Regions from separate parts of the Homo sapiens genome. Here all the other regions are reported to be linked to region 3. Evidence: microRNA targets listed by miRTarBase, many of them from high-throughput screens and not tested one by one. Region 3 holds a microRNA gene; each other region holds the end of a gene's coding sequence.

The links. The annotated mature microRNA hsa-miR-603 reads CACACACUGCAAUUACUUUUGC and lies in region 3 at 4,186-4,207, shown strand. An mRNA with a match to its seed (bases 2 to 7 or 8) in the 3' UTR can be bound and repressed. Matches are read on the target gene's strand: a 7mer-m8 pairs with bases 2 to 8, a 7mer-A1 pairs with bases 2 to 7 and ends in A, and an 8mer does both.
Region 1: miRTarBase lists IL6ST as a target of hsa-miR-603. Seed matches in the 3' UTR shown: 7mer-A1 at 5,440-5,446.
Region 2: the mRNA of CCDC160 is a reported target of hsa-miR-603. Seed matches in the 3' UTR shown: 7mer-m8 at 1,355-1,361 and 7mer-A1 at 1,380-1,386.
Region 4: miRTarBase lists RHOQ as a target of hsa-miR-603. Seed matches in the 3' UTR shown: 8mer at 4,865-4,872.

The regions. Positions count from the first base shown.
Region 1 is chr5:55,934,713-55,941,830 of GRCh38, forward strand. IL6ST (interleukin 6 cytokine family signal transducer) reads right to left here. Exons shown (of 17, transcript NM_002184.4): 17 at 383-7,107. The coding sequence ends at 6,370. Among named protein-coding and RNA genes, the nearest start is that of IL6ST, 57 kb to the right of the region's middle.
Region 2 is chrX:134,244,650-134,251,774 of GRCh38, forward strand. CCDC160 (coiled-coil domain containing 160) reads left to right here. Exons shown (of 3, transcript NM_001353453.3): 3 at 128-2,193. The coding sequence starts at 152. The coding sequence ends at 1,129. Among named protein-coding and RNA genes, the nearest start is that of CCDC160, 11 kb to the left of the region's middle. RefSeq lists a silencer at 2,639-2,838.
Region 3 is chr10:24,271,560-24,278,684 of GRCh38, forward strand. It overlaps MIR603 (microRNA 603), which reads left to right and starts at 4,126; the gene lies at 4,126-4,222. The region is part of intron 2 of KIAA1217; the gene reads left to right.
Region 4 is chr2:46,579,722-46,586,846 of GRCh38, reverse strand. RHOQ (ras homolog family member Q) reads right to left here. Exons shown (of 5, transcript NM_012249.4): 5 at 2,159-5,919. The coding sequence ends at 5,764. It overlaps PIGF (phosphatidylinositol glycan anchor biosynthesis class F), which reads left to right. Exons shown (of 6, transcript NM_002643.4): 6 at 5,256-5,910. The coding sequence ends at 5,369. RHOQ-AS1 (RHOQ antisense RNA 1) reads left to right here and starts at 6,609. Exons shown (of 2, transcript NR_104182.1): 1 at 6,609-6,812. RefSeq lists a silencer at 677-860.

The DNA.
Region 1 (7,118 bases), not on the chromosome of region 3:
ATCCCTCTCATAAAGCTTATAGAGCCTATTTCCAAGAATTTTCTATAAATTCATTTAAAAGCTATCATTAGTCAACAGGCTGCTTCTGACTACAGGCAAGACTGCAGGGAAAACCTTTTCCTACGGGGAAGGGACCCAGATGTATACTTAATAGTTGTGTCTTGGACCTGTTACTAAGTGAAGATTGTTCTAGGAAAGTAGGCCTGGACTGAGGTATTAGATTTCTAATCAACAGGCTGGTCTCATTCAGAGTTTGAACCAGCACTCTGGGGGAGAAACCACTTGTGGCCGTTGAATTACTCTGGCTAGCCTGTCTCAGAAAGACCATCCACAGCCAGGGCTAATGAGACAGTTGAAGAAAGAGAAATACTTTACCTGAGGGTTTTGGTTTTTTTTTGGCTTTTATTTTTGTGTGTGTGGATTACCACCATATAGCTCACCATGTTATCCCAGAAAGACTACAATTTCATACAGAATGCACAGATGTTTAAATAAAAAGCCATTTAAGTGAGGGGATAATTCTCACTAAAAAAAGCTCAAAAATAAGAAATGACAATTCTAGATACACTTTTTTGACATGTAAAATGACATAACCATAGTCACAGGGAATAAAGAATCAGGTTTGAATGTCCACAGGTTTCTAAAACTAAGCTCTGGCTTCGTATCTGTTGAAAATCTTTAGCGGTTGGGGAAAATAGCTATATTTAAAAACAAATATTGAATTTTGAGTTGAAAGGTACATTTTCCTCCCTTGATGGAGACAGAACTTTTCTATGGAGAACCCAAGCAGCCTTTCCATGATCTTACTAAGTTGTCCAAGAGCCAACCCCGATCAGCAGCAACAGGACTCAAGCTGTTCACCCTGCTTTCGAGTTGGCTGAGCTTCCTGCTGCTTTCACACATTCTTCTTTTTCTACCTCAGTTCCTCTTTGCTTGTAGTCTTTCACTCCATTAACTTGCCCAAGCACTGGACTTAAGTATGGAAGAGCCTATACGCAGTTGTAATATATTTCGTATTTTGAAAGTGTAGAAGTTTGTATTAATTTAAAAAGAAAAAGCTTAAATGGAAAGTTAAGCAATCCTGAACAAGAAAACTCTCTCACTGCCTTTGGGCTAGAGAAAGAGTATGCTCTCAAGGAGTTACATAATCTTTTCCAAAGCAGGATGGACTGTATCTATCATACACATTAGGATAAGATGAGCCACCACACCTTAAAGAAATCAGGCTTGAGCCTATACAAGCCATAACCAAATAGAAGATTTTAAACAAAGGAGCACATAGCCCAAAGCTGACATGTTATTTCTATAAACTCTGGTATATATGTGAAGGAGTTACTGTTGGCTGGCTTGTGGGTTTTTTGACTCACTACATTTTTTTAGACAAAATCACAATGTGAAGGCACATTAATAGTTGAGATTTTCTTTTCCTTCCAGGTGGACTTGCTGACTGATTAGTTTCATATACTACTTAGTAACCTCAAGAAGTAGCAGGAGGATGCCATGTATCAATCTTGAACTTCAAGTCTCACTGCAACAAGGATGGAGACTCCAGCAGAGTGCAGGGTGGGCACAGACAGGCCACAAGATGGCGCAGCACCTCCATACTTGGGCTCTTGACAACCAAGTAGGTTTTTTTTTTTTTTTTTTTTTTTAATGTCCACTAGGAGGGAGGATGCTACGATTTCAGACCTCAGCTATTAAATAGTAAATCTGGAAAACTAGTGGATAAATTTGCCATCTCCATTCTATGTTATTAAGACCAAGATAGTGTACTGGTTTTCTTTTAAATCACATTCCATTATGTCATTTAAAATGTCACAAAACCCACACGAAGCATCTCATTTACACTAAGATGCTTATTTAGCTAACACCACTAATGATAAATGCTGTTACAAATATGCATAGTCAGATGATAGTAACCACATACAGAAAAAAAATTTGAACAAGTATTTATTTCTTAAAATTTACTTAAGGGATTAGAGCTAATATATAATAGAACATTTAATATAACATTTGGAGTTATGTCAACATAAAAATAGCTGTGGTTACAATTAGCACATGCAATTCACTGCAAAGGTAAAAATACATGCTATACTCTAGACAAGCCTTCCAAATGAAGTTAGAGTAGATGGGGTAAAACAGCAAGTGAACATGAAAGGATTGCACTTAGAAGAAAGTGGGACATAGCTAGGATATAAAAGAAACATACCTAATGCTAGTCAGTCACTGCATTGTCCTACTAGCAAATTGCACATTTATTTTTAGAGTATATTCAATACACATACATATTGAGACTAGAGAATTTTCAAATATCTACCTTTGAAATATCCCTTTGTTTCTAACACATCACATTATGGTATTAATGTAACAGCACTTAAAACCTGTAGTTATCATTCAAAGCTTGTGTTCAAGAGATAAAAGAACATCATTCAGACAAAGCCTGTGTTCAAGAAATAAAAAAAACATCTATCACTATCGGCCTTAAATGCATCTCATCACACGACCCATCAACTTTAATGAAATGGGTAATGAAGTTAAACTAACCAGTTTGTACAAACTATTGACTGAGAAAAAGCCCTTAAAAATTTAGGAACAAATGAGCAACAGAAGAGCTCACCCTGAGCTGCCACCTTTTAATTTTTAATGCAATGTATATGAGAATATCATGCTAATGCACATACTAGTAGCATGTATGATGGAAAAAAATAGGTTAATGCAAAAGATAATACGCTTGGCTTTGTAAAGTTTTGTTTTGACTTACATCATCTGAATTCTGTTTATCGAGTCTGAAAAGGAACTGCTGCCAAGGACCAGTCCAAAGAAGAATTAGGCTGTAAGACTGCTAGTTCATACCTTCTTTGAAATCAATGACAATGTCCAATTTTAGGCTAATCCTAAAACACTTGCCATTTTATGACTCCATATTCTTTTAATTTACAGAAAAGTACAAATTTTTTAGAAAGTAATCTTATCAGCACAATATAATCTAACAATACCTGTAATAGAAAGCTATCCCAGTAAATTTTTTTTGAACAATTGAACTTTTGTCTTATGCAGCTTATAACTTTGTTATTTTATTCATCTCAACAAAATAAAACTTTATTGAAACAAAAGTGTATGGTTTAGGAATATGCTCTTAATAACAACTGAGCAAAATTAGAATGATGTGGACTATAACAGAATGAAGGAAGATCTCTCCTGCTTGATGTACTTGGTCAATATATGTTAGTAAACAGAAATATTTTAGGGAATTCTATGATTATTCTACTTCTACATTTACATGTCATGGTTTTAACTAGTTAAATGGGTAGAAAAAAGACATCTTTAATAATTGATTTCTATTTCTCAAACTAGATGCTCTACTTTAAATATGAGCTTTAATGAATGTTTTGTAACATTTTAAAGTTGTAACATTTCTAAGTATACTCCACTAACTTCACAATAAGAGCTAGGGTCACTGGATGACTTCATGTGGTAAAATCCCTTATCAAGGAATAAGGCTGAAATTTAAATGAACAATTAGGTAGAGAAGAGGTATGAACACAGAACATGTGAATGAAATTTGCTTTTTTTCCTTGCTGCTGTTCCCGAGTGCCGACTGATCCATAGTAAAAAAGGACAAGATTAAAATTTTAGGTTTTAATGGTACAAAGTGTGAAGTTTTATAGTTTTCTAATAATTATTCAGTATTATCCCTTTCAGAGATGAGGGTAGGATACCACAGACATCAGTAACTGACAAGTTATAATATCAACACATGTAACATTTGGGTCATTATTTTATAACCCTAAAGGGAGCAACTGCAGGTGCAGAAGCAGTGAGTGAACTAGTTTTGTCCAGACAAGGTTTTCTGATGTGCTATTACTTTAAACACCACTTTTGGACACTAAAGATTTAAAGTGATAAAGCCACTAACTAACTTTATTAGACTAGTTTTTACATAAATAACCAGATTTCTTTGCCTACCTAAAGTACAATTTACATGCATCAACACATAGATTATTCTAAGACATGCTTGGGAAAGTAATTTTGAATGTAAAAAGTTTTATAATTTATTTTCTCCTTAGGGCAGGTGTACATTACATATTAGTGCTCAAATATATGTTCATTTCCAGAATGAATTTTTGCACAGTAATCATATATCCATTTAATATGTATAAAGTGTTCTTGGGGATGGGGGTATATTCACTCACTGTACCATGTTTTATACAGGCTTCAACATGCAAATTTGTTTATATCATGGCCTTCAATGATCCTCCATTCTCATTCCTGTAGATTAAGAGTTCATATTGTATATCTGACCCTGAAATGTACAAACTTCACACTACAACATTCTTCATGACACTATTTGTTATGAGGAAAGTTGCAGCTAAATATTAGTCATGTGACTTAAATTTTGAGAAAATGGAAAATGTAATAGGTATAAATTTCCTGACACATACAGCAAGACAAATCCAGCCCAGCCTTTGATGATCAACTTAAAAGCTGGAGATGTCATTATCTTGTTGTGTAAATTTGGGTCTATCCCTACCTTTACTTCTCTGTGCCTGATTTTCCTCATCTACTTTGAATTCGTCATTCTATTAATCTACTTTTGCCTAAAGTGGGAAACTGAATATATCAGAATGAAACATCTATTTTTTTCATAAAGAAGATCATATAATATGTGAAAGAACTTTGAAAGGATGAGGCATTATATAAATGCAAGAATATAAAAGATAAACAGGAAGTCTAATGTGAACAATATTCTGAGAGTAAAAAGTGTAATTATATTTCCATTGTAAATGTATACCAAGTTTTCTTAGCTTTCTATTCTCCAATAACCTCTAGAAACTATTCTAAGCATGCCTGGTTTCTGTAACTTAAATATGGCATAAAAACCTGTTTCCTTTGAATTCACTTGATAGCAGTAGTCAATCACTAATAACGCTTGCTAATTTCCTCTTACTTTCTAAGAAAACCCCTATATTTAGCATCTGCTTCCATATCGCACGTGGTGGTTAGGGGACAGCATAAGTACACTAGCGGCTTTAGCACTAAACTCGAGGCCTGGGTCACTTCTCCCTTGAAGAAAAAAGGTTTTAAAAATTCCTAAATCACAATGTAGAACTAAGTTCCACCCTACCTCAGAACTGCAGACATTAAAATACCATCTCTTTATTAAGTGTCTCTACAATAATGATATTTGCTAAGAACAAGATGTACATTTTTTGGGGTTCTGTTTTGTTTTGGCAAATATTGCCCAAGTTGTCTTAGTGTGCCTCAAACATTTACTAAAAATAAAAAAATTTAAATCTTTGCCTACTTATTTAAAAATAAAAAAAATACTCAAAACAAATTTAAGCTGAAGATATATACTGTATAAAGTGTTCATCTACCCAGTACTCTGAAGTCTTAAGAAAAGTCAATGATATGTGTGTGTATATATATATATATATATACACACATTAGCAATTTAAGCCTTTTAACATGCCAATTTTTTAGATGCTTTATTGGTTTTTTTTCCCCTTTACTACTACTTCCTGTTTTCCCCTTTACTACTACAATTTAAGCCTTTAAAAATGGCAATTTTTTAGATGCTTGAGATAGTTTGGGGGATCCCTAGCTCTTATCATGGCACTCTGTTGAGTTTGTGAAATGCATCTTCAAAGAGGTTGTCAATAATATGCAAATTTTTGAAAACTAGTGAGATTACTAATTATTGATGAATAAAAAATGAGTACTTTTAATCTGCCAAGTTAAAGCTCTAGAATTCCTTTTCTCCAGTAATAACTCGCAGCATCACTACCAATGGAAGGGACCTAAGGAATACCGTGTACACTGATATACACGAAGCTGCTCCTCATTTTTTTGTCAGATTACAAAAGCTGGGCTCATGTAGTTATGGCCTATGGACCTCTTTTTAAGTTATTTTAGCAGAAGTAGATGATGGTCTACACCTTGCTCCTCTTTTATATTAACTGTCCCTAAGCCACTCTGATGACTATTCTAATCAAAATCAGTATAGCTGTGCTCACTAAGCATATCACTGCTTATTATTCAAATACCTTCTGTTTTCTATGTAGCAAAACAAAAAGTTTTATAAATTTCAGATAAGCTTTCTGTTTTTCTTCAGTGCAAACATCCTGAAACAGCACAAAATCATTCAGCTAGTCTGAGGATAAAGTCAGTTTATGTAGTGCTTAAAGTAGAATCCCAGATATTCTGGAATGGAAATAGCTCATGTGAAACTTCAGTTCATTTTTGTCCTTAAGGGCAAATGATCATCTTCAGAGAGTGAAGACTTTTTAAAATCTGAATTCACAGATAAAATCATTTTAGCTTTACTTTATAGGTACTGCTGAAGTTGTAGCAGGAACTACTAGTCCTTCACTGAGGCATGTAGCCGCCTTGCCGTACAGTCTGTGGTAAGTAACTTTTAGGCATGCCTTCATCAGTCGCAGCCTCCATGCCAACTGTTTCAAATCTTTCTACTTGTCCCTCAGTACCTGGACCAAAAGCATCTGCTGCAGAAACTTCCTGAAACATTTTCATTTGCCCAGATCCACAGGATTGTGAAATATGATCTGAAATCTGCTGTTTAAGTCTAACAAAATCTTCCTCATTGACTGATGAAACTTGCTTTGACCTTTCAAAATGTGAAATATCTGGACTGGATTCATGCTGACTGCAGTTCTGTTTGAAGTACTGTTGCCTGGGCAAAATACCATCACCGCCATCTACATGATCTACTAATTGTAGATCTTCTGGCCGCTCCTCTGAATCTAACAAGGGCTGGGTAGACTCGGATCTTGAGAAGACTTGGACTGACGGAACTTGGTGTCTGTAGCCACTGTGTACCACGGTAGAATACTGGACAGTGCTCGAAGTGTTTTGTGAAGATTCATTTTCATCACTGCTAGAAATGCTTGGCCTAGAAGATGACATGCATGAAGACCCCCCAATACCACTGCTGTGTCCTTCAGTATTAATTTTTTCCTTTTTGAACAGGTCCAATGATTTCAGATCTTCTGGAAAAGGCTTTTTGTCATTTGCTTCTATTTCCACAACACTTACATCAGTGAAATTGCCATCTGAATACATTTGATCTTTTGAATTAAAATTGTGCTAAGGAAGAG
Region 2 (7,125 bases), not on the chromosome of region 3:
TAGAGAGAGAGCCAGCCCTCAAATGTTTAGATTCTTCACCCGTGAGCCAGCATTTTTATTTCTTTCTACTATATTAGCTACTAGTGTAAATAATGTGCCTGCCTTGGTTTTAAATTTTGTTTTTCAGATATTGGAAGAGGTGCCTGGAGAAATGGATGCTAGAAGAAAACACTGGAAGGAGAATATGTTTACTCCTTTTTTTAGTGCACAAGATGTTCTAGAAGAGACTTCTGAGCCTGAATCTTCTTCTGAACAAACGACTGCAGATAGCAGCAAGGGAATGGAAGAAATTTATAATTTGTCCAGTAGAAAGTTTCAGGAAGAAAGTAAATTTAAGAGGAAAAAATATATTTTCCAACTAAATGAAATAGAACAAGAACAAAATTTAAGAGAGAACAAGAGAAACATTTCAAAGAATGAAACAGACACAAATTCTGCATCCTATGAATCATCTAATGTGGATGTTACAACAGAAGAAAGCTTTAACAGCACAGAAGATAACTCTACCTGCAGTACAGATAACTTACCAGCTCTACTAAGACAAGACATAAGAAAGAAATTTATGGAAAGAATGTCTCCAAAACTTTGCCTGAATCTTTTGAATGAAGAACTGGAAGAACTTAATATGAAATACAGAAAAATAGAAGAGGAATTTGAAAATGCTGAAAAAGAACTTTTGCACTACAAAAAAGAAATATTCACAAAACCCCTAAATTTTCAAGAAACAGAGACGGATGCTTCAAAAAGTGACTATGAACTTCAAGCTTTAAGAAATGACCTGTCTGAAAAAGCAACAAATGTAAAAAACTTAAGTGAACAGCTCCAGCAAGCCAAAGAAGTCATCCACAAATTGAACCTAGAGAACAGAAATTTAAAAGAAGCTGTTAGGAAGTTAAAGCATCAAACCGAGGTTGGAAATGTGCTCCTAAAAGAAGAAATGAAATCATATTATGAATTAGAAATGGCAAAGATCCGCGGAGAGCTCAGTGTCATCAAGAATGAACTGAGAACTGAGAAGACCCTACAAGCAAGAAATAACAGAGCCTTGGAGTTGCTTAGAAAATACTATGCTTCTTCAATGGTAACATCATCAAGTATCCTTGACCACTTTACTGGGGATTTTTTTTAAAACTTAAAAAAATCCTTCCAGTAGGCAAGTCATTGAGCCAAATCAGTGTTTATTGTATTTTCTTTGCGTATTACTTAAAATATATGTAATAGGATGTTATTTTCATTTTCAGTAAATCACAGTATCTATAAAACATATACATGTTTCCAAGCTTCTGCTTTCTCTTTCTGATGAAGTTATTGCAGGAATACAAATGGAAACGAAGCTTTGGAAATCTCATATCAGAGTGTGTGTGTGTGTGTGTGTGTGTGTGTGTACACACACACATATATTCACTCAAAAACACATAATGATTCACCAAATCATTTATGAATACAAATCAGCAATTTTGTGATCTCGTAAGCAAATATGTCTTTGGCACGTGAATATTTTTCCATCTGTGTTCATTGATGTTAACAATAAAAATCTTGTTTATGTGTATAAGCCTAACATATGCCTGTGGGTCTTATAACTGCCTGTTCAAACTCAATGGGATACCAAAAATGTATCTGCTTACTTTGGGGGTCTAACTTTAATTCGGTACATATAAACATCTCTGGAAAAAAATGTAGTTTTTTTCTTCCCCCTGCTGTTTTCCCCAGGCTTTCTCCTTTGACCTGGCCACGGTTCCCATAGACTACAAGACGACTTAGAGACATTGCTGTGACCTTTTGCTAGAGCCCTGCTCTTGCCAGCAGTGGCTTTTGTGTTTTCTTATGTTGACCAGTAAGGGGCATTGTTTACACAGTTCTTCCAAAACTCGACCAGGGGAAAATTTCGAAGCTTCCTCCCCGGCTTACATCACAAGTTGGCGGGGACTGTGGTGAAGTTGGATGTCATCTGGATAAACTTTTAGTGAGCTGGCTTGATTTTTACAGTAATCCAGCCCTGTAAGGGCTCCAGGTGATGACAATTTATTTTACACTTATACATGGTAAAAATGTACTGCCTCAATCCTTGGGTGGAAGTGATGGGCCAGTTGACTCTTTACCATTTGTTTGTATCAGTCATCAAGATATCCTGTAATAGGAGCTCTATTTGCATGGTGTTTTAAAGCCTAATAAACCAAATGTAATTGCACACTATGAGGATGAGATACAATTGTTTTAAGGGTTTAGGTGTCTTCCCTGTTGGGAAAATCCCTAGACTGGGAGTCAGGACATTTGGCTTCTAGTACCTGCTCTGCCAGTAACTAGTTAACTTTCTTCCCCTAAAAGTCCTCATCTATAAAACAAGGCAACAGATCTATCATCGAGATTCTGTTCAGTTCTAATGTTCTGTGATTTCACCTCAATGATTTTATTTGCAAGTGTAACTCTACCTGTAAGGAAGTAAAACTCCTATGGCATTGGATGCATTCAATTCTTTTTTTGTTTTGTTTTGTTTGAGACAGAGTCTTGCTCTGTAGCTCAGGCTAGAGTGCAGTGGCGCGATCTCGGCTCACTGCAACCTCCGCCTTCCGGGTTCAAGCGATTCTCCTGCCTTAGCCTCCCGAGTAGCTGGGATTACGGGCGCCTGCCACTACACCCGGCTATTTTTTGTATTTATGTATTTATTTATTTATTTATTTATTTAGTAGAGACAGGGTTTCACCATCTCGGCCAGGCTGGTCTCGAACTCCTGATCTCGTGATCCACCCATCTCTACCTCCCAAAGTACTGGGGTTACAGGCGTGAGCCACCGCACCCGGCCTGGATGCATTCAATTCTAATACTTTGGGGGACCTACTTTGCAGACTCCCTTTGAAAGAAAATATAAGCAGGGTCCTTTATATAGTTTGAACATCTCCAAATACTATGAATAATAAATCAATAGAGGTTGTTTCTCTACCTTTCTCTTGTTTCCTCTTTATTCATTAAGGTTGGGGAAGGCACTGAATGGATACTGACTAAGCTGACCTGGAGGCTGAACAAGTCTTGCCTTGCCTGGGAGGACTGGCGTAAATTGGAAGATGCTAATCTTTGGAGCTCTGTGACTTAGTCCTGATAAACCTAACCCAGGCACTGGCAGCCTGCCTTAAAGGGGGAGATGACTTTCAGGTTTTTAGTGGTCACTGGCTTCCCACCAAGGGTCTAGGTACGAAAGCAAACTAGGAACTCGTTGCCCTATTTTACTTTCTTCTTCATCACCCCCTTATAAGATTGCCCCTTTGTACTTGCCTCATAAGACGCTCATTCCCTGAATGCTAATGTGCAGAGCTGCTTACATGTTTAAAAATTTTACAATGTATTAATTAAGCTACTAGGCTCAATCCTTTCAATATAATTTTTTTTTAAGAGAGAGAGGGGGACAGGTTCTTGCTGTGTTGCCCAGGCTGGACTCAAACTGCTGGGCTCAAGTGATCCTCCCCAGTAGCTTGGGCTGCTGGCATATGCCACCATGTCTGGCTAGTATAATTCCATTTTAATTCCATTTTCTTTTTTTTTTTTTTTTTTTGAGACGGAGCCTAGCTCTGTTGCCAAGGCTGGAGTACAGTGGCACGATCTCAGCTCACTGTACCCTCTGCCTCCCAGGTTCAAGCAATTCTCATGCCTCAGCTTCCTGAGTAGCTGGGATTACAGGCAGCTAATTTTTTTTGTATTTTTATTAGAGATGGGATTTTGCCATGTTGGCCAGGCTGGTCTCAAACTCCTGAGCTCAAGGGATCCGCTCACCTCAGCCTCCCAAAGTGCTGGGATTACAGGCATGAGCCACCATGCCCGGCCTATAATTCTGTTTTCAAAGAGGAACTTTTATTCCAGGAGTATTTCTATGAACCAACCATACATTTAAGGTTTTCAGTGACAATTTGGTTTATCTTGCATGAGTGTGTATGTGTGCTTGGGGGCAGGGAAAGAGTGGTGGAAGGAGGGCCAGAGACATTAAGTGTATGGCTTAGACTAGGTCTAGGGCAGGGGGTGGGGTTTCTATTTCTAGGTTGGAACTAGAATACAGATTCTTGGTGAGACAGCCTGAAATACTAAAACCCAGCAAGGCCTGCCCTGTGGAAAGATCCTATGGAAAGCACAGGTCCAGACACTAACCAGGGAGGTAATATATACAATCACTAACTTCAGAGGGCCAAGGAGAAAGGGGAGCTAAGGTCACAGACCCAACAGTTTGGAATTAGGAAGGGATTGCATCAAAATAAAAGCAGGGCAGGAATAAACTGGGAGAAAGCTGTGCTATTATTCCTCTTCATGGGCAGATGAGCACAGCAGTGGGTTGAACTTGTTTAAGGAACTAGAATCAATATATCATCACTTTACTTTCTAGTATATTAAATGGGAGATCTGGAGGTGTCTTTGTTGTTGTTGTTGTTTTAGAGGTGGGGGCTGGCCTTGTTGCCCGGGCTGGCCTTGTTGCCCAGGCTGGAGTGCAGTGGCACAAATAGCTCACTGCAGCCTGGACCTCCTGGACTCAAGCAATCCTCCCACCTCAGCCTCCTGAGTAATTGAGACTACAGGGGCTTGCTTCCATGCCTGGCTAATTTTTTATATTTTTAGAGACAGGGTCTCACTATGCTGTCCAGGCTGGCTTCAAACTCCTGGCCTCAAGCAATCCTGTGCCTTAGCCTTCTGAAGGAGTGGGATTACACACATGAGCCAGCAGGCTTGGCCCTTGCAGGTGTTTATGTGGTTTTTTTTGTTTTTTTTTTGTGTTTTTTTTTTTAACAGGGATGGCACATCAGGCCACTCATCCCTTTAACTAATCTGTTGGGTAAAATATTTGAAATCAGCAATGCAGTCACACACCATTCATCACCAACTTCTAATCTCTTACTTATTAAGAAGCATGGGCTGTCACAGTTCTCTGGAAATATCTGTTCCACCTTGGTTTAATAATTCAGTTCTATAAACATTTGGTGAGCACTTATTGCCACAGTTCATTCCTTCTAAAACACATTTTTAAAATTTTTGACATTTCCTGAATTTGGGACTCATCTTCAAATTGATGGTATGTCATAGAATAATTGTCAGTGTTTTGTTTTTCTTAGTAATTAATGAAATAATGGTGTATCTTACAATTGATGGAGTTTTAGATTTGATGAAATAAGGTATGTGCTAGGCTGGGGATATGGAAATCAAAGGGTTTATGAATAAGACAAGTCTCTGACCTCAAGGAGCTTACTTATGCAATTAATTAAAACAATGTGGTAAGAGCTATACCACCAATGCTAATATAAAGTGCTGTGGGAGCATAAAGGAGGATCAATTAATTCTGCCTGTGGGACTGGGAAACACTTTGTAAAGGAGGTGACATTTGAGCTGGGCCTTGAAGGATATGAAGGATTTTTCCAGACAAAGCATGGGAGTAGGAGGCAGGGACATTTCTGGAATGTGAATATGGAAGGTTTATTTGGCTTCAAAGAGGACTCAGCAGCAATGAATTAGAGCACTGGTATGTTATGTGTTGCTGATTTTTTTGTTTGTTTGTTGAGACGGAGTCTTGCTCTGTTGCCCAGGCTTGAGTGCAGTGGCACGATACCGGCTCACTGCAACCTCCACCTCCCAGGTTCAAGTGATTTCCTGCTTCATCCTCCCAAGTAGCTGGGATTACAGGCGCCTGCCACCACACCCTGCTAAGTTTTGTATTTTTAGTAGAGACAGGGTTTTGCCACATTGGACAGGCTGATCTCAAACTCCCGACCTCCTCAGGTGATCCACCCGCCTCGGCCTCCCAAAGCGCTGGGATTACAGGCGTGAGCCACCTCGCCCAGCCATGTTGCTGATTTTTAATGTCTCGTTTGAGGTTCTACCCTGAAAACTACTGTGAATTCCAACGTTTTTGGTCATTTGCAGATAGACTGGAGAATGATGTTCTCATGACATAAAGACCAGGTTCCAGATAACAAACTGCAGAAAACCATTTTGCTGATGCTACTCTACCTTTGGATGCTATCATTTTTGTTTTGGAAACAAAAGACCTAGGAGATTTTTATCATAAGCCAAGTCTGCCGTGAGTAGGCTGGTTTCAAGGAGATGTATGAAAGAGAAACATCACAGTTGCTCCTCTCTCCAAAGAAGCATAGAGCATAGAGGTTAAGTGCACAAACTTTGGTTATCCACTTGCTAGCTGTGTGACCTTGGGCAACTTGTGTAATTCTCTGTAGCTCAGTTTCCTCATCTTGTAAGACAGGGTACATAACTAGTGTTTTTGAGAGGTAAGATGAGATCACATACGGTCAATAAATGTCACCCTTGTTATTATCATTATTGCTAATCGACAATGGGAAATTGACCAAATCTATCTGTCTCCTCCCAGCTATTACTCTCACCAAGCTTTTTATACCTATTGTGTTCCCTGGAGAGAATATGATGAACTAATTCGTAATATGTGTATCAATGATGTGTGTATATATTTGGGAAGGTGGAACAAGTTGCAGAGAAGACATGTTGGTTTTATTAGTATATGAAGCCTTAAGGCAAAGTAACAAATCTATTGTGATGGCTCTTCTGGCCTCAGGAAGGATCCTGTAGAGGGCATTTCTTGGGTTAGAGCCTACCCACCCCCCCTCCAATCAGGTCTGTGTTCGATTGGCCCCTGGCTCTAGCAGGCAGAGTACCAGAAGGGGGAAGAAAGCCCTGCTCTAGTGCTCCAGAGGGAAAAAAAACTCATCTAGGAAGAGGGAATGGAGACAAGAGAAGCTATTATAGCATTTTTTATTTCCCCTTGGCACAAGGAGCTGTGCAGCTGGGGACCCACTACTACAGCTGCTCAGATAAAAATAAGTCATTGTCTTGTCCTTTGTACTCATGAGACACTGAAGCTATAGTTATCTATGTATTGTAGGTGTACCCTCCTTTCCATACTGAGTACCAAGGTGATGTCTCCCCTGTTTAGTGGTCAGAGCTACTGTTCACAGAGTCTCTCTGTCCCTCCACCCCACTACCTCTCTCTATGAATGACACCTTTGATCACACTCAACCTTCTGATGATTGCTATGTTTCACTGGGTGCAGGTTGTCATTTCCCAGGAGACTGGGTTTATTCCTGGTTCTATGAGGATGTGTTCTGGGGTATCCTCGAAGCATTACT
Region 3 (7,125 bases):
GGGCAACGTGGCAAAACCCCATCTCTGCAAAAAATTATAATAATTAGCCAGGCGTGGTGGCATGTACTTGTAGTCCCAGGTACTGGAGAGGCTGAGGTGGAAGGATCACCTGAGCCTGGGGAGGTTGAGGCTGCAGTGTGTCGAGATTGTGCCACTGCACTTCAGCCTGGGTGACAGAGTGAGACCCTGTCTTAAAAAAAAAAAAGAGTGAGAATAATGAAACTGTGCACACGCAGGCCTTTTAATAAACTTTCCCCCTGTACGCAGCCCATTCTAGCTATATATATTTCTTGGTCCCAGCCTCTTCAAATAAAAATTGTTTTATTCAAAAGTATGACCTAGCCTTATACAAGATAAGATAGCCCACTTAAAAGTGGCATAAAAGGCCACTTTTATGCATCTCCATTTTAGGTTGGTTACAAGAGGCACAGAGAGACCAAAGCCCATGGGATGCTCGTGAGAGTAGGAAATTGGGTGGGAAGGGTGGACTCGGGAGACAACCTGACATCTCTCTACTTGAAGCCTAGCAATAAGGTTCAAAGGTTCCTCATGCCTTGTTTTCCCTTCTCTCTACATGATTAAGATCCCATTCCTGTAACAGATAGCAATGTGTTTATGCAGTAAAATTAGATAAGGGAGATTACTAGGGAAGTCACTACTCAGTTAGGGATGTCAGTGGTGCTCACTGCAGGTCCAGGTTAGTAATAAGAACTCTGGACTAGTAGCTAGGAGTGCTTGAATCTAGATTAGTTCTACTTTCTAACTCGATGTGTGACATTTTTTCCACTTAATTTTTTTGGCCTTGGTTATCTTATTGGAAAAAATATTCAAGTTGCACAAATAACTAAATGATGCCTGAGTTTTCATTCAGTTCTAAAACTTCTCAACTGAGCAATCTGTTGTTGAAAGGAGAGTACGAGTTCTAAAAGCTACTCTAGGGAGCTCTGCATTCACCAAGCCGCTCCATCATTGTTGGGAAGAAAATACTAAGGTTGACTCATTGTCAAAGCCACATTCTACTCAAACTCAATGTACATAACTCGAATTCTAGCCACATTCCAGCCAAATTGAGATAGCTGTTCAAATAGTCATGGATTTATTTAATAACTGACTTCGAAATTCTTTACTTCTTTCAAGGTGGCATTAACAAGTATTTCGGAATTTCAACAGAGATCGGTTTTCACGTGCTCTTCAATGATCCCTGTGAAATAAATCATATTCAAGGGTTTTTTTCCCCTTATGAGTTATTCGCCTGAAGGAAGAATTCTTCATTTCTTTTTCTTTTAAATGCATGTTGGAATAAAGTCTTCTTTGAAAAGTCTTAATGAAAAGAGCAAACGTGGAATAGCATCCACCCCAGTTCTTTCTCTGGTCCTTGCACTCTGAGAATGAAGTCTTAGACAGCAGAATGTCAGGGGACTCTCATTGCGTAAAAGTCTGTGCCCTTCTGCGCCTTGGACAGTTATGGACAGAAGCCTTTAAGAAGAAGAAAATTAAAACTAGTTAATTTTTTAGTTAATTTTAGCAACACTACATATATGAGAGAGAGAAAAGATGGCATTTTCTGAATGAATGAGATGCCTCTGCATTTTGCCCAACTCATTGGAGACTCAGGATAGAGAAAAGGGAGAAATTATGTTTAGAGGCTGATAAATTTCCCTATGGTTACTATCAAGAGATCAGACTCTTATTAACATTTGCAAAGTGTGAGCAGAGAAGAGCATTTGAACAATAAGCATAGATTAAGTACTCCTCTTTCCTTCATTCCCTTTTCTCTAGTCATATTCTCAGACAGTCCAGGCTAAGTATTAATGATCTTCTTTGAAGTTAAACATACCCTTGCTACTTTCATTACATTATTATTTTTATGTTCTTCCTTTTGGAGTACTCAAGGTAAATGACATGGCAGAATCTGTCCCAGTCCAGTGAGGGTGTCACATAAGAGGCCCTTGGCTTACCTCTATGCATAACTGGCCCACGTCACATCTTTAATTAGAAGTCCAAGTTATTGGCTGGACGCCATGGCTCATGCCTGTAATCCAAGCACTTTGGGAGGCCAAGGTGGGTGGATCACCTGAGGTCAGGAGTTCGAGACCAGCCTGGCCAACATAGTGAAACCCTGTCTCTACTAAAAATGCAAATATCAGCCGGGTGTGGTGGCACATGCCTGTAATCACAGCTACTCGGGAGGCTTGAGGCTGGAGAATCGCCTGAGCACACGAGATGGAGGTTGCAGTGAGCCGAGATCGTGCCACTGTGTTCTAGCCTGGGCGACAGAACAAGACTCTGTCTCAAAAAAAAAAAAAAAGTCCAAGTTACTGTTGCAGGGATTGGGACATCTTGCCTTTCTCAAGTTGAGCAATATTCCCAAATATAAAAATGTAGGATCTTAGTCCAATCAGAGCAGATATTTGGTGTAGGGCATTTTCTAATGTAGTACCAATAAATTAGACGCATACCTCAACCAAAAAACAGCCCATATCCAGTAAGTAATAAGGCAATGATTTACATTTCACATATTACCAGAGTAATGACTAATAGCATACATGTATAAACTGAAAAGTGACTGATGCTTATTTTCAGATGGGTCCAAATTTATTGGATAATTATGGAGAATAATGTATGTTTTCTGAGAGTTGGTAGTAAGAAAATATTGCCATTGCTGGCCAGGCACAATGGCTCACACCTATAATCCCAGCATTTTGGGAGACTTGAGGTCAGGAGTTCATGACCAGCCACCTCAGCCTCCCAAGTAACTAGAACTACTGGTGCATGCCACCAAGTCCAGCTAATTTTTTTTTTTTTTTGAGACGGAATATTGCTCTGTCACCCAGATTGGCTGTGTTCTCCATTCTAAGTCCAGTGGTTAGAAATTGTCAAGTTCTCACATCTGCAAAAAAAGTAAAAAAGATGAACCTGCTACATCTAAATATACTTTGTTGTCTTCCTACAAGTCCTATTTTACATACTTATGGCATTTTTACTGCAGTTTGAAAATACAGTCAATTCTTGTTATTCACAGTATTGATGTTCTATAAACTTGCCCTAAATACTGCATTAGTGAGTCCTGAATTTATTAGTTAATACTGAATTTCCTAGGGGAAATACAGGGTTAGGTTCCTGTGAGTCTTTGGTTACCTTTTTATCAACCAATCAACAAAAATCCTTATTTTACCTGTGTTTTTGTTTGAAGACACCTTTTAAAATATATATTATTGATTCATTAGCATTGAACTAAGCTTATCTAATGCACTTATTTTTTGTGTAAGGTGTATCACAGCCTTCTTGAGCCTAGGAATGCCAAATAGTACTTCCACACCATACTTAAGGGCCATTTCATTTTATTTCTTATTTTTAAAATTTATTCTCTTTTCTTATTTAAAGAAAAAATTTGTAGATGCCGGGTCTCGCCCTCTTGACCAGGCTGGAGTGCAGTGACACAATCACAACTCACTGGAGCCTCAAACTCCTGGGCTCAAGTGATCTTCCCACCTCAGCCTCCCAAATATCTGGGACTACAGGCACACGCCACCATGCCCAGCTAATTTTTTAATTTTATTTTTTTGTAGAGGCAGGGTCTGGCTATGTTTTTGAGGTCTTAATTCCCCAATGAACATGACTAGTATATTCCAGGCTGGTCTTGAACTCCTGTCACAAAGCAATTCTCTTGCCTTAGCCTCCCAAAGTGCTGGGATTTCAGGCATGAGCCACTGCACCTGGCTTGGACCATTTTAAATAGTGAAGTCACTCACACACACATACACGCATGCAGGTGCACACACAGACACAAAAAGACACAAAAATGCGAAACTTGTGGCACTAAAAAGACTGTGGAAAGGGTGCTTCCTTACAGTATGAAAACTGAAACAAAAAAGCAGAGTGTTGTTTAGTTAGACGCCACCTGGGAACGTGCTTGTTGGGAAACTCCAGTTGTCCACTGTCCTGCCATGTCTATGATGACTGCAAACATTTGGGAGTATTAATTTGAGGGTCACAAACAGATTTTAGGTGATGGGCATATTTACAAATACAGAATCTGCTAGTAATGAGGACTGACTGTATAATGCTTTAGTAGTCTCAAGTATGTTTTTTTTCTCATTAAGCCTTTGCTTAAGATGCAGGCAAGATTGATGCTGTTGGTTTGGTGCAAAAGTAATTGCAGTGCTTCCCATTTAAAAGTAATGGCACACACTGCAATTACTTTTGCTCCAACTTAATACTTGGCTTTATTGACTTTTAGCATCAGTGCAGTTTGGTTAATGATAAAATTTTCCAAAGCAGTGTCTCATCTGCAGGAGCAAACTATAGCAAGGGCCCTGGCCATCAGTTCTCCCTTCTGGTCCTGATATTCCTTTTTAAACTGTCTTTCCATACCCCTCCCTCCAGTGGGCTTGGCGATGTTGCATTAAATAGCAAAGAGAAGGAAACTCCTCCCCAGTCCTCACTGACCATTTCTTTTTCCACTCAGTCCTGCTCAGAATGTAGAAGAGAAGTTGAATTTAATTCATAAATTCAGCAGCTTGAGGACTGTCAGTTTTGTCGTTATTTAGTGAAATAGTAATTGAATTGGGCTACAAGGTCATTGGAATCTGCTGTTTCATTTCATATCATTTTACGTGTTATTATTCTAATAAGAATACAAATGGAGTTTGATGCCATTTGCTGATCATCCATCTTATTGATGCCATTGAACAGAACGCAGAAACACAAAGGGATTTATAAGGCATTTCAGTTTTGATGTCCTTTGAAAAATGAAAGTCTTTTCAGAAATGCAAAAGACAAAATGACTTAGAATTCCATCTCGTTCTGCCCGGTTTGAGGGCATCCCTTCCTATTCCTTAGATAGCTGTTAATAAGAGTCCTGAGGAAAACTGGGTTTGAATTTAAAAACAAAAAATTTTTAAGAGACAGGGTCTCGCTTTGTCACCCAGGCTGGAGTGCAGTGGCACAATCATAGCCCCTGTAACCTTGAAGTCCTGGACTCAAGTGATGCTCCCACCTCAGCCTCCCTAGTAGCTGGAACTACTGGCACATGCCATCAAGTCCAGCTTTTTTTTTTTTTTTTTCTGAGATGGAATCTCACTTTGTCACCGAGGCCGTAGTGCAGTGGCGCGATCTCGGCTCACAGCAACCTCTGTCTCTCAAGTTCAAGTGATTGTCCTGCCTCAGCCTCCTGAGTAGCTGGGACTACAAGCATGTGCTACTACGCCCAGCTAATTTTTGTATTTTTAGTAGAGACAGGGTTTCACCATATTGGCCAGGCTGGTCTGGAACTCCTGACCTTGTGATCCGTCCGCCTCAGCCTCTCAAAGTGCTGGGATTACAGGCATGAGCCACCACACCCAGCCAAGTCCAGCTAATTAAAAAAAAAATAAAAATCGTAGAGATGGGGTCTCCCCGTGTTGCCCAAGCTGGTGTCAAATTCCTGACCTCAAGCAATCCTCCCACCTCGGCCTCCCAAAGCTCTATGATTATAGATGTGAGCTGCCATGCCTGGCCTTAAATTTTTCAAAAGCTTTTAAACCAATCTTAAAATGTTTTATCCTCTTAGAATCATGTCCCTAGTTTTATAGCTTGGAAATTCTTGCTCTTTTCAAATTGCTCTTTAACTCTGGCCTGATTGGAAGGTGGCAGCTTTTCAAATACAGGTCATGGCAGCGCTCAACCTGGATTCCTCAGTTGCAGAAGACTGCTTTTGCTAGACTGCTGAATTTACTTCCAACTTTTCAGATGTTTCTGAGGTTGACCCTGGTGTGGTTCCCACTCAAAGTGGAGCAAGCAGGTGGGTGGCAGGTCTCTTCTTAGCGGCTTCCTAGAGGGAAGCCTCGTGAGTGGGATGGGGGACAGGTTGCCCTGGGGGAGCCCAGGAATGGGGAGACAAGGCCACCTGCTATGCAGATGATATAGTTTGGCTGTGTACCCACCCACTTCTCATCTTGAATTGTAGTTCCCATAATCCCCACATGTTGTGGGAGGAACCTGGTGGGAGGTAATTGAATCATGGGGGCGGTTTTCCCCATGCTATTTTCATAATAGTGAGTGAGTTCTCATGAAAGCTGATGGTTTTATAAGGGGCTTTCCCTTTCACTGGGCACTCATTCTTCTCCTTGCTGCTGCCATGTGAAGAAGGACGTGTTTGCTTCCCCTTCAACCATGATTGTAAGTTTCCTGAGGCCTCCCCAGCCCTGCAGAACTGTGAGTCAATTAAACCTCTTTCCTTTATAAATTACCCAATCTCAGGTTTGTCCTAATCGCAGCATGAGAATGGCCTAATACAGTAGGTTTTCCTGAGTCCTCTCTCTGACTCACCCTCTGACGGGCAAAAGACAGTGGCAGCACTGCCAGCAATCAGCTGGGAACTTCTCCCCTGTGATAGAAAGCAGTGCTTGCTGGCTTCCCTTTGTGATGCTTTTGGACAGCAGCTCTATGGACCTATGCCTTTTGTCCTTTGAGGACGGACGCACAGTCTGTGCAGCTCGAGGACGCCGTCATGGGTGAGATGCTGTGGAGTGTGATGACGCCACCTCTTAGGCTGTGTGTGAAAGTAGCGAGGAGAGGCAGGGTCTGCATGAGCCACTTTGGAGCAGGCCAAAACACTGTGGAGAAGCACATTACAGCCACAGTGGCGGTGTAAAGGGTCAGACTGACCACTGGCTTCTGGAAAGTCTTCATTTCTGAAAGACTGTCAGGTAGAAGATGGATGAGAGTTACTCTGTGAGGCCGGAAACCTAGAACTCAGACCATTGTGTGCAGACCAGGGAGAGGCAGTGTTTGGAGTGAGATAAGCAGGAATTTTGAAATTACACAGACCCGGTTTTGAATTTACTCATGAGCTGTGTGGCTTAGAGAAAGCTGTTTAATCCCACTGACCTTCATCTGTGAAGTGTCCAAAAATAATACAGAGCTTGCAGAGTTGTGTGGATAAGGGATAATCTATCGAAAGCATGTGGCAAGTGGCAGACACAATGTGGGCACTAGGCAAGTGGCAAGTCCCTTGTATTGAGTCTTATTTGTCTATTCAGTGAATATTTGGATACCAACTCTGCTGTTCTGGGCATGATGTTAGCCACTGGGGAGACAGAAGGAATGAAAGAGATGAGTAACCTAATGTGTGCTGTCTAGTGG
Region 4 (7,125 bases), not on the chromosome of region 3:
TATCCCAATGAGTAGATTCATTTGTGCATGTATTCCTGTATCAGACAATAACATTTACTTTAGGAATATCTGGAAAAACATACTGTTCAAGACCAATTTTGGAGGAGAATATAAATGATTATTTATAACCAGTAGGTCAGCAGGCTTTGAAAGATGAACTCTCTCAGTCATGCAAATGCAAATTTGTGATAAGCACAATTAACAAAACAAACATATTGAAAAGTAGCTCATGAGAGATTGAGAACTGGATTTTATCTTCCTTTTTATCTCGAGAGAGACAGTAATCCTAATGGTTGTGAGTTGTTCTAAATGTCTGTAGGTGTTCTGATTTGCAGATAGGTCAGTTTCTCCATGTTATCTGTGACAGTGTAAATCTCCCCCAAAATTATAAGTAATATTTATTATATTGGAACACATTTTTAAGAATTTATACTAAAATGTATCCAAAATTAAATAATTTAATCTTAGTTTACACCTTTAACTGCTGGGTTAAGGTAGGGGCTCCACAAATAGTTTCGAATGAATGGAGTCATTCATATGAGCCTTTAAAAATTAACACAAATGCCTACCAATGATTAGTTTAAAACCACTATCTGTACTTAAAATTTTGTTTCTTCGAATTTATGAAAAATGACAGCTAGCAGCAGGGTAACCTTCTGAGGTAAGGATACAGATGGTTAACGTAATGCCAGTATGTTGTACAGCTCCTGAATTTGCTCTTGTAACAGACATTTCACATGAAGAACAGCATGTATTAAAGATGATTGCTTTATGGCTGGGCGCGGTGGCTCACGCCTGTAATCCCAGCACTTTGGGAGGCTGAGGCAGACGGATCACGAGGTCAGGAGATCGAGACCATCCTGGCTAACACATTGAAACCCTGTCTCTACTAAAAATACAAAAAAATTAGCTGGACGTGGTGGCAGGCACCTGTAGTCCCAGCTACTCGGGAGGCTGAGGCAGGAGAATAGCGTGAACCTGGGAGGCGGAGCTTGCAGTGAGCCGAGATTGTGCCACTGCACTCCAGCCTGGGCGACAGAGCGAGAGTCCGTCTCAAAAAAAAAAAAGATGATTGCTTTGCAAGGGTAAAGAATAGTTCCTACCACTTCCTACCACACAGTATATTACTCATGAACTATTCGTTCTAAACTGCCGGTTCTACTTATTACATAGTAGTGTCAGTGACCAAAGAAATACTGTTTGTGTAAGTTTAATTTTTTCAAGTTAAAACATGTAATATACAGAATACTGGTACGTGGTACTTTATAGCTTTCATGACAAATTTTAAGAGATTACTTCAGCCCTGCATTTTAAGTATAGTAGGTACTTCTGTCCCTGTTCTGTAGGGGAAACTGAGGCTCAGATGTTAAAATGAGCTGGCTAAGGTCACTTAACATCTGATGTACCACTTATTTTTTAATTAGATTTTTCTTCTTCCTGGTAATTTTAATAATTTTACCCACTTGAGTTGTAATATATTTGATTATACACCATAGGTTGTTTCTTCTATTTACTGGCTAAAAAAATGTAAATTTATAAAAAACTCTCACTATCTTGCCCAGGCTGGCCTCCAGTGCTTGGGCCCTTGTCATTTTGGTGGCAAACACTTGTGAATGACTTCCTTTACATGAATGTCTTTGTTCTAAGTTTCCTATTTTCTTTAAACAAAATAATTATATAAAGCCATCTCAGATTACCATAATTTGGAGAAATCTTTATAGCAGTGCAGCTGAATTATGTATTTAATAGATATCACTTTTTTAAAAAATCCTATTTGTGGCATGAAGAACGTTGAATAGAAACATGTCTGTATGTGAGATAAGGAAATAGTTTTAAAGGAAAACCTTAGGATCTAATTATGAAAATACCTGATTAAGCTAGGATTTACAAATGAATTCTGTTGCCATAGTGTAGTTTAAAAATTTTTAGAATAATTATAAGAAAATCAGTAGGAAACTTGCTTGAGGAATAGTTCTTAGTGGGCAGCCTCCCTCCTTTTGCTGTTCCCTATTTTGATAATCTATTTTGATCTTCAAAAATCATGAAAACGGCCCTTAAAGAAATTCTCTTTTAAAAAAATGACAGGGTTACGATTAAGAAATGCTTATTTCAGGAAAGCCAAGGAGGTACTCTTGTAAGTACAAAGCCTGACCCATCATTAACAGTCTTCAAAGCCAGTCCACATTTTAATTTGCTGATGGCATGCACTTCTTGATTTACATAACATGAATAACCAAGTGTTCCAAGCCGTAACCCTTCATTAGACAAAATTTTTTAACATTTCATTTTTGGCATTCTGTTGGAGGTGAGGTGTGGCAGCTGTTTAAAAGAATGTGCGTGGTGGTATGTATGTGTTTGAGAACAAAGAGCCATACTGAAATTACAAAATGATTAAAATACAATTTAGTAACCCAAATTGGAATCTAGCTGGGATTCATGAGGGATTACTATTCTCCCTATACTTTAACAGTGAGCTTTTTTTAACAGAGTATAGGGACTCATACTTTGCCAATGATTAGTAGACTCTCAGCATAAATAGAGGAAAGAGTATTATCCTAAATGTTTACATAGGGTAATAAATAAAAACTACTAAGGTAAAAAGTTCAGTGCTTTACGTAGATAGTAAACTATGCATAGTATTTTATTTGTAACCCCATGTGTTAAGAAGGGACACTGTTAAAGTAACAATCATTTAAAAGTAACAACCAACAAACTGGTATTTAATTTGGTATTTTAAATAGTTAAAAATCAAATGGAAACAGTGTCTAAAGTCACTAAGATAATTCATAACAAAACCCATTAATCCAAGCTCCACTTATTGTAAATAGAATTCACCATGAGCTAACCTAAAATGTACCTGTGGAGATAAAACAAGAGTGTAAGTTAGCAAAGTATTAAATAAAATTTCAGGGAGCCCCTAAATTTATTTTTAAGAACTTTAGAACTAATTCTCTATATGCAAACACTGATTAACTCAAATATCTTGTAAGTTCATTCATACATGGCCTTATTTGAGGCAGTGTATTTGTATTCACTAGCAAAATTCATGTCAGTAAAATATTTTTGAAGCAGTTTATTTCCCAGATATTTCACTAGTTTGAAATAGTCATTTCAGTGATTAGTCTGAATTTCTATTGAAGCCTAAGCTTTGAATGAAGACATGCTTCTGAAAATAAGGCAGTTTTTCTCTAGTCTGCTTATCAATAGAAAACAAATCTTTGGTTTTTAGTTAAAGTGACAGGAAGGATTTTTGCAAAAAGAAAAACTAAAGAACCAAAGCAATTAAAAAGCTCTTGATAAGCAATGGGGAACTCCAAACCCATCAAGGTCAGTAGAGTACCTAAGGCACCTCAGCTTCAGATGTGACAGTCATCTTTGCTTAGAGTTCTGATAATCTATATACATGATTTTTACCATCTTGAGAATGTGAAGCTGAAAAGGTAACATCCAACAATGATTACTGTGAATAAGAAAATTACTGTGATAAATGGGAGAGACGTTGGAGATCTCTGTTCTACCTCCCATATTTATAATGAGGAAACCAAATCCCAGTCAAGAAACAGGTGACACCAGTTTGTGTAGACAAATTCCTAATCTGTTTCTGTTAGGGCAGGGCAAATTCTAGACTTCTAACTTTGAATTAGTAAACCAAGTGTGAAGGGTTTCAGAGATATGAATTGGAGCCCCCTCCCCCCACCAAAAAAAATCCTCATAAATCCCCAAAGGCAAGTTGGAAATGTGTAATAGTTTACTGTTGTAATTCGTTTATACCATGTGTTGGACAACTCAGCTAATATGTTAATTGATTTATACAATTCCTTTCAATTTTATCTAAAAATAAGCAGACCAAAATTAAATAAGAAAGTTACATAAGATTCCATTTGAGCATACATAAGGCCATGATACTTTAATGTGAACCACCATTTCTTGGAAGAAAGAAGACATCCAAATGTCCGATTCAGAGAGAAAGTTCCTGGCCAGTCATCCAGTAGACTCTCTCCACTCTTCAATGGGAAGGTGATGCTTATATTTTTAAAAATCTCTACAAAGCTCACATACAACAAGACAGTACATCCTAGATTTGTGACTGATATGAGCATTTAAGGCTGTCATTTTCAAGTATAAAAGTTTAGTGTTCCATTACCCAATCTGTGCAGTAGACATAGCTATAAGCTCAAGTCATGTGAATTAACAGAAGCCCACCAAAGACATTTAAAAAATTATAATTTGGGCAACAGCAAGTTTAAATGTAGGAAAGGCTAGAAAAAATGTGATGAGATTGTTTCTCTAAAATGCATTAGGTTGTTCACAATGAAGCTTTGTCTAACACCATTATCTGATGCATCCATTATCTGATGCATGGCATATGCAATAAGGCAGATCCACAGCAGACCAAACAAGGAAGCTGAATTAGGTAATAGAACTAGTAATTAAGATGGTTCACCTCTAACACAGTTCTGTGGCCTGTTCCCCCCAGAGAAAGATTAGAAATGGCTCCAGTGTACCAAATAAGCTTCACAGAAGAACATGAAAATTTTCCTCCAACTTTTTTTTCTTTTTTTTTTCAAGCAGAGCCTTTCACTTAGGGACCAACTGCTTGTAGATGAAATAAATCAACATTAATTACTTCTAGCCTGATGTAATATGGCTGGAGAAAAGGGGTCTCTGGAAGCCGGTATTTTGTTTAACTTACATTCTAGGTGTGTATATAAGTTGTCGCTCTATAACTTCTGCTGTGGTTCCAACATCTATATCTGAAAGGTGGAAGCAGCTGCTCTGTTACAATTTTCATGTAACACGCTTGGATTCTAGGTCTTTCCTCTTTAACACAACTTAAAGAAAGTTTCTTGTGGTTTGGTCAGCATACACACTTCTCATTTCATTTGATGTACACAGCCAAAGTGGGAATTAAAAAAAAAAAATTACCAACTAGTTCAGAGAGCTAAATTGAGTCTATCATTATGGCAAAGTCTGACCCAAAATTTTAATTTGTAATTTTAGCATGTGTCTCATGCACTTTGGGGAGCGTCAAACTAAATCTACAATTGCCAGAAGCCTTGTTACAGTTTAATGCACATTAACTAAAATGTGTACATTTTTAGTGTTCATGATAAATGCAGTTATGACCTTATTACACTTTTGGCATTCTTTAAGAAAGCACATTAAGCTTTAATATAGAAATATTTAGGTTACACTTGTGCTCAAGTAATAATAAAACATTTGTTCTTTTTTGATCTCATACATTCTCTCCTCAGGTATGGCCCATCTCCTGTACGCTTGGAGCGACCTTTGGCTACGTGGCTGGCCTTGTTATTTCACCACTCTGGATATACTGGAATAGAAAGCAACTTACATACAAGAACAATTAACTGGAGCAAAGGGAGATATTTCTTTGTGCAGATTCTGTAAGGGCTGGGCAGAAATGTGTATGGTCAAAGCCAAGCAGTTCCATTTACAGCTCTGTTTTTTACGTAGTTACAACATGATGTGATTGTAGCTTTTTAAACTATGAAACCCCTGAGAGATTGTACCTTCTAGTTGAAATAAAGTATTTATAATAGATTGTGGCTTCAGATGCTGCTTACTGCTTCTTAAACCTTTAAGGAACATTCTTAATACACTTTATAGAATTCTGAGGACAGGTTTTGTTTTCTTTCAAGTTTTGAACTGCTTCATTACCTATAAAAGGTCTGGGTATAGCTGTAGCATTTCATTTGCTTTCTGAGAGAAATGGACAGTTTCCTTGGCCACTGAAGATGTTTCTCACGTAATTAAACAACAGTTTATACATCTTGATCCTATTCTTTTTTTTACAGTGTGTTTCTTTGGAGTTAAAATGGCTATGATAGCCTCATCAAAAACAGTCTTCAATCCCTTCTGGGTTAAAGCTGAACATTCCACATAGCAGCATGCTCCTATCTGGGAGGGAGAAAAAAAATCACAAATATATAAGATCATGTTTATACAATTGGCATGACATAAACACATCATTATAAAGAAAATTATAAAATACAGCTATGCAAAAAGAATACATTCATCATCCATGTTCATAACCCCAGAGGGGATTTTAAAATACTAGTATATGTCCTTCCAGACTTTCTATGAAAAATTATTTCACTCACCACATATTTACTGGGTATCTACTATATGTCAAGCACTGTTTAGGTCCTGGGGATATGTCAGTGAACTGAACGAAAGAGCAGAGTCCCTGCTGTGTGGCGTCCACATGTGCTGACATCTGCTGGGTAAGAGGCACAGGGGAGGGAATACAGAGCAGATGGTTGCAAATGCTGTGGGGAAAAAGCAGAGTGAGGGAGGCGGGGAGTGCTGAGGACAATGGTAGTGGGGGTCCGGGGAGGCTTCTCAATGGGGAAGTTTGAGCAGTGAGGGATACCTAGGGGAAGAGCTCCAGGCAGATAGATCCTGATGCAGGAGCATGCCTGGAGCAGTCAAGGAACAAGATCACACTGAGGATGTGGTATTTGAGCAGAGACCTGAAAAGAGTGAAAGAATGAATCATGTCCATAGGGAAGAACATTCCAGGCAGAGGGAACAACAAAAGTACAAAGGTTCTCAGGTAGAACTTTGAGGGAACAACAAAGGAGACCAGGAGGCCTGGGGAACAATGAGTAAGGCAGAGAGGGAACAGAGGCTTGTAGGCCACTGTGCGGACTTTGGCGTTTAGTCTGAGCTGGGGACCCACTGGAGGATTCTGAGCAGAGCAGTGACATGATTGCGCTTACATTTTTAAGACTTACTCTGGCTGCTGTGTTGAGAACAGATGACCATGGGGCATAGACAGAAGCAGAAAGGTGAGTTGGAAGCTATTCCAGTAAAGCAGGCCAGAGATGGAGGAGGTCTGAACCAGGTGATAGAGGGAAGAGTTAGAAAAAAGTGTCTGGATTCTGGATATGTTCTGAAGGTATGTTGTGCCGAAGGCTAGATGTGTGGTATGGGAGAAAGAGCAAGGTCAAGTACGACTTCAGGGCTTTTTTTTTTTTTTGAGACAGTTTCACTCTTGTTGCCCAGGCTGGAGTACTATGGTTCGATCTTGGCTCATCACAACCTCTGCCTTCTGGGTTCAAGCGGTTCTGCCTCAGATTCCTGACTAGCTGGGATTACAGG